Regions from separate parts of the Homo sapiens genome. Here region 1 is linked to region 2. Evidence: fine-mapped expression QTL. Tissue or cell type: whole blood. Region 2 holds a variant in brackets; the other region holds the start of a gene. All regions are shown on one strand. Distances are from middle to middle.

The links. PIP is the estimated chance that this variant, and not a neighbour inherited with it, causes the effect.
Region 1: it holds the start of TMEM63A, and the variant in region 2 is fine-mapped to the expression of TMEM63A in whole blood (TOPMed, PIP 0.99).

Annotation. Positions count from the first base shown.
Region 1 is chr1:225,880,931-225,883,610 of GRCh38, reverse strand. It overlaps TMEM63A (transmembrane protein 63A), which reads left to right and starts at 1,231. Exons shown (of 25, transcript NM_014698.3): 1 at 1,231-1,307. RefSeq lists enhancers at 313-362, 423-472, 2,675-2,680 and silencers at 983-1,142, 1,703-1,822.
Region 2 is chr1:225,838,242-225,840,921 of GRCh38, reverse strand. It overlaps EPHX1 (epoxide hydrolase 1), which reads right to left. Exons shown (of 9, transcript NM_001136018.4): 4 at 2,041-2,268; 5 at 1,576-1,705; 6 at 885-1,093. It also overlaps a transcript of TMEM63A not described here. Among named protein-coding and RNA genes, the nearest start is that of EPHX1, 29 kb to the right of the region's middle. The variant G/A (reference allele first, on the strand shown) is at 1,427.

The sequences.
Region 1 (2,680 bases), 43 kb before region 2:
CCTGCCTCAGACTCCCTAGTAGCTGGGATTACAGGCATGTGCCACCACACCCGGCTAATTTTGTATTTTTAGTAGAGACGGGGTTTCTCCATGCGGGTCAGGCTGGTCTCGAACTCCAGACCTAAGGTGATCCGCCCACCTCGGCCTCCCAAAGTGCTGGTATTACAGGCATGAGCCACCGCGCCCGGCCATAAGGAGGATATTTTTATGCCGTTACAGAAAAAGATGAAAGCTCAGAAATGGAAGGGAGGTCGGAGAACCTGCAAAGGCATGCATGTGGGGTGAGGACTGCTCAGAGCTCAGAGAGGGGTGCTGGAAGGGACCTGAGAGGAAGCTTTGGTCCAACCACTCATTTCACAGATAGGGAAACAGGGGCCTGCGGACGGGTTGGTTTGCTCCTTGATTCCCAGGGCGCGCGGTCCTCCCCGAACCCAGCCTCGCTTCCCGCGCAGCGCCCAGCAGTCCCTGGCGCGGCGGGCCGGCCCTGCCCTCGCGAGCTTGCGGTCCGGTTGTGGAGGCCACCGGCTCCCTGGAAACATTTGGCTCCCGGCCGGGAGGCATGCCGCGCTCTCGGACCTGGGCTGGAGTAGGTGCCCTTGGCGGCCCTGGCTCGAGCAGTAATGGACTAGCCCCAGGGGGCGTTGGAAATGCTGCGACCCGCCCCCACATTTTTGCCCGAACGGAGACCCTCCGGGCTTTCACGGTCCGGCCTTCTACAGCGGCGGGGGAGCCGTGGCCTCTTGCAGGGCGCTCCGCGCGGTTCCCGACTACCCGGAGCCGAGGTGCGGGCTGAATCCTGCTGAGCTCCCCATGCTACCACCCCCGCAACCCCACTCTCCCGGGGCGGGTCTAAGAGCTCTTCGGGGAAATTCAAAGCACTACAGGGACCAACGTTTGCAGATGCTCTCCCTGCGCCGCGACCACCCTGTGCTTGGCCCAGTTCTCCCGGAGGCGTCCAGAGACTGGGCTCGTGCCGGGGGACGGAAGAGGGTGCGCCCCGGCGGATCCCTTCTTGGAGCCTGGACGTGAGCTGGCCGGTCCGGGGCTTGCAGACCTCCGGGAGGAGCTGCGGGGCTGAGCGGCGACCAGGAGGCCAGGCCGGGGCAGAGGACCGCCGAGGGCCACCGCGGGAGGCGCAGTCAGCTGCGTACAGGCTTGCGCCGCCGCGGGCCAAGACTCCAAATTGGGAAAGGGGTGGCCGCAGCTCTGCGCATGTGCAGGAGGCGCCGGAGTTTCACTTTGTAACTTTTAAGTGGTCGGAACACGCCCCGCGCTGCTGGGTCCCGCCAGACACGCCGCCGCCGCAGGTACAGGGGACAGGGGGCGTGAGGAGGGGCAATGCACCCTCCGCCTTTCCCGGGACGTGCGCGCCAGGTGTCCGGTTCCGGAACGGCTCCCAGCCTACGCAGACCCCAGAGCCCCCGACCCCAAGCAGGGGGTGACGACGCGGGATTGGGTGGGAGGAGAGGGTCCGGGCAGCGCCTCCATTCCAGCCCTGCGCTCCTTGGGAATTCCTGGCGGCTTTTCAGGACTTTCCTCTCCGGCTTTTCGCTTTCAGGGCTGGTATCTCCTTCTTCCCCACCCCTCTCTTTGGGATTTGTCGGCGGAGTCCGACCTCCCACCTAACTAGGAGTGCAGCTATGGGCTCCTCGGACCCTATACGAGGCCGGGCTGGGAAAGGGCCAAGCGTCCGACTCTCCTGACGCCAGGAAGGCAGAGGCCACCCCTCGGGCTGTTCCTGGGTGACCACTTCCTGCAGCCTTGGCGGAGTCCTGAGGAGGGAGGCTGGGGACTCGGGGACTGGGGGGAAGGGCGGGGGCGGAAAGGGTGAGGCGAGCTCTGCTAAGAAACCAAATCCGCAAAGGTTCCAGCACCTGATAAGACTAGCTACCTGAGGCCCTGGAGGGGCCTTGGTCATTCAGCCCCAGGCAGGTGGTGTCCTCTTCAAGGGCAGGGGTGGACAGCGTGGCGGACCCACTGACCCTCCCTTGACACCTCTCAGGTCATCCTCAAGTCTGCTGTGCCTTCAAGGGGGATATGAACGGAAGCCGAGGCTCCTTTTCCCTTCACACGCCCCTCTCCTTTGTTTAGTGTGGGGGCAAAGGTCTCTCCTAGCTGTTCGTTGGGCTCTAACAGAGAAGACGTCAGGTGGGATCCTGCCCTTGTGTTTCCCATTAGCTGGAGGGGCGACTTAAAATAAAGGCAGACAGCTTCTAATTGCTTGCTAGGGCCGGGTCCTGGGCTAAGTGCTTTACAGGTGTTGTTTGGGATCTGTGCCTCCCAACAGCTCCGTGAGAGAAAGTCATCACTCGCATTTCCTGGCGAAGGAAGCCAAGGCACAGAGTGGTTAGGCTGCTTGTCTGAACTGCGTGGTGCTGAGACCCTAACTCCAGAGCCTGCTCACATAATCCCTGAGCCACACTGCCTCTGGTTTCAGCCAGGGGCTGTGTCATTTCCTTTGTGCTCCAGGGTAGGAGGTAAACAGTTGTCCAGGTTACTGGGTCCTGTTTGGTGTTGCCATAAGGAGAAGTTTGTACTTTACTTTGCAACCTTATTCTGCATCTGAAAGACCAGAGTTAGCTCCTGAGGCAGAAGGCCTGGAGCTGCTTGTAGTTTCGCTATTGTCATCACAGGATTGAAAGATTTGGTGATGATAAAATTACCCTGAATTTGTACGGGC
Region 2 (2,680 bases):
AAAAATGCTGACTTTTATAAAGTGCCATTATTATGATTATGAGCTGCCTCGTGTGTGTGGGCATGGGTTTGCCATGAAAACTATGAAGAACTTTGAGATGGGCAAGACAATTCCTGGGTGTCTTCTGGACAAGATCTAGGGAGTTACCTAGCAGACCTTCCGGACTGACGTGATGCTACAGGGGTCCCATCTTTCCTTGTCATTGAGCTATTTTACAGTTCTGTGAATTGTAAAGAACTGAGGGTAATGCGAATGACTCTTGTTCATAGAGGCAAATGAATTTTGTCCCATGGAGATTTAATTGATATTACTCTGTGGATGTTGACAAGTTTTGTGTCTGTTAGCAAATTAATTTCAGTGTTCTTATTTGTCTTTGAATTGTTTCTTTTTAAAATTTTACTGGTTCCTTTATAAATTTACCTTTTTGAAAAAGTATTGTCCTTTAACAGGACCCTGGTGGCAGACATGGTTGCTGGGCCCTCCCTCACTGCCTGGGAACCTCTTCCCCAAGGCCCCAGGGCACCCTCTCCCCTCTCCCCTGCAGCCCCAGAGCTGCCCACTCCCAGGATTCCTCCTACCTCACCCCCTCCATCCCTCTGCTTCTCAGTGTAGGATATAGACTCAGGGGTGGGAGATCAGGGGTGAAAGCCACTATGAATACTGAGTCGGCTAAACAGAGTTGCTAAATTGGCCTGGGAATCTGCTGAGGGTCCATCCTCTTGATTCTATGGGAAAATGCAGTTTAAAGATCTAAAGAGCTGGGAGGTCCTTACAAGAGGCTTCCTTCTGTGGGCAGCATTGGGGTGGGGTGGTGAGGTTACCCCGCGGGTGTCTCCCTGCCCCAGTGGAGCCGGCAGTGGGCGAGGACCCCTGAGCACACTCACCTACGGTGTCAGGCTTGGTGCACTGGATGTGCATGTAGCCGCTCTCCCTCATCAGGCTGTAGAATACCTTCTCCTTGACGGGGTACAGCAGCTCCACATCCCTCTCAGTGAGGCCAAGAAACCTCCCGAAACGCTGTCCCAGGAGGAGGGTCAGGGTAGAGAAGTTGCTTAAAACCAAAGCCATGTTCAAGTGCAGGCCTTTCACGTGGCTGAAGGCAGAGAGAGGGGCCGGGGTGAGGCTGGGCTGGTGTCAAGGACAGGGAGAGAGGAGAGATGGCGGAGGAACAGGCCTCAGGGCTGAGGAGCGAGCACAGAGCCAGCCTCTTTCAGCACTGGCCCCACTGGGGAGGCCATGGGAGTTGGAGAAGGGAGGTTGGGGGAAAAATACAGTTTCTGGGGAGTTCTGCTCAGGGCTATCCCAGAGCTTGGTCCAGCAGAGAGGTCTAATGCCTGACCTTCCCCTCCTATCACAGGCCTTCTCTGCCTGGGAACCTGACCCAGAGCCGCAACCCTGGGTTACAGACAGGAGGATCCAAGTCAAC[G/A]TGCCTCAGGCACTGCTGAGTGACAGGTCACACTCCCTCCTCTCCCCTGGGGGGTCCTTGGCCCACCCTGCACACAGGTCCACTTCTTAGAGGACACACACACACACACACACACACACACACACACACCACCCCAACAGTGACCTCACCTGGGCACCAGCTGGGCCATATTAGTGCAGATCAGGGACCCCCAGTCCCCTCCTTGAATGTAGAATTCCTGGAAGCCCAGCCGCAGCATCAGCTTGTAAAAGATCCTGGCGGTGGCCACCGAGTTGAACCCTGGCAGTGATGGGGAAAGGCATGGAGTCACGGAGTCACAGGCAGATTGCTCCTTGGGCCCTCTGGTGTTCTATGAAATTTCTCAGGCCCGCCTACCCCCAGGTGGAGGTCAGAAAAGCTCACAGAGGCAAGAAGGAATCCTGGAGCCCAAATATAGGGGTGGCATCTCCAGCCCCGGAGGGCGGTGTGTCTGGGGCCGGCCTCTCAGGCCCCTCCTTTCCCAGCTTCCTCGGGCCAACTCCCTGCTCACCCCGCCGGAAGGAGAGCCTGGTGGGAACACCGGGCCCACCCTTGGCGAGGACGGGGCAGTTATGGAACCTCTAGCAGCCCCGTACCCTTCTTGGAGGATGCCTCTGAGAAGCCATAGCCAGGGATGGAAGGGCAGATGACTTCAAAAACGTGCTCATCGCTCAGGCCATGGTTCTTGGGGTCAGTCAGGAGTGGGATGATCTTATAAAACTCGTAGAAAGAGCCGGGCCAGCCGTGCACCATCAGCAAGGGCTTCGGGGTATGGCCTGCGGGCAGCTGGGGGGGCTTCACGTGGATGAAGTGGATGTCCAGCCCTGGGGGGACAGAGCACAGTCAGGGTGGAGGGAGAGAGAAGACCCTGCACGGTCAGGCTCTGGCACCCCCCAGAGCCTAGATATTGAGTCCTGCCACCCTTAGTGCCCCCGCCGCCCCTTCATGGTATTGACAGTAATAAGGGCTGACACTGGTTTCACACTCACACTGTGCTCCAGGTGCACAGATGTCCTCACTCAGCCTTCACAACCTCCCTGCAAGGGAGCTACGATTATTGCCTCCCGGTTTCCTTAGAGGTGCCCCCTGACAGCTGGGCCAGGTCTGTACAGCCACTGCTGGGTTTCCAGGGCTCAGGACAGCTCCTGGCTCACAGCAGGCCTCCATAAATACTTGTTCAATAATTTAAAATCTGGAGGGTAGGGAGAAAGCCCCACGTATCCAGCAATACAGGAT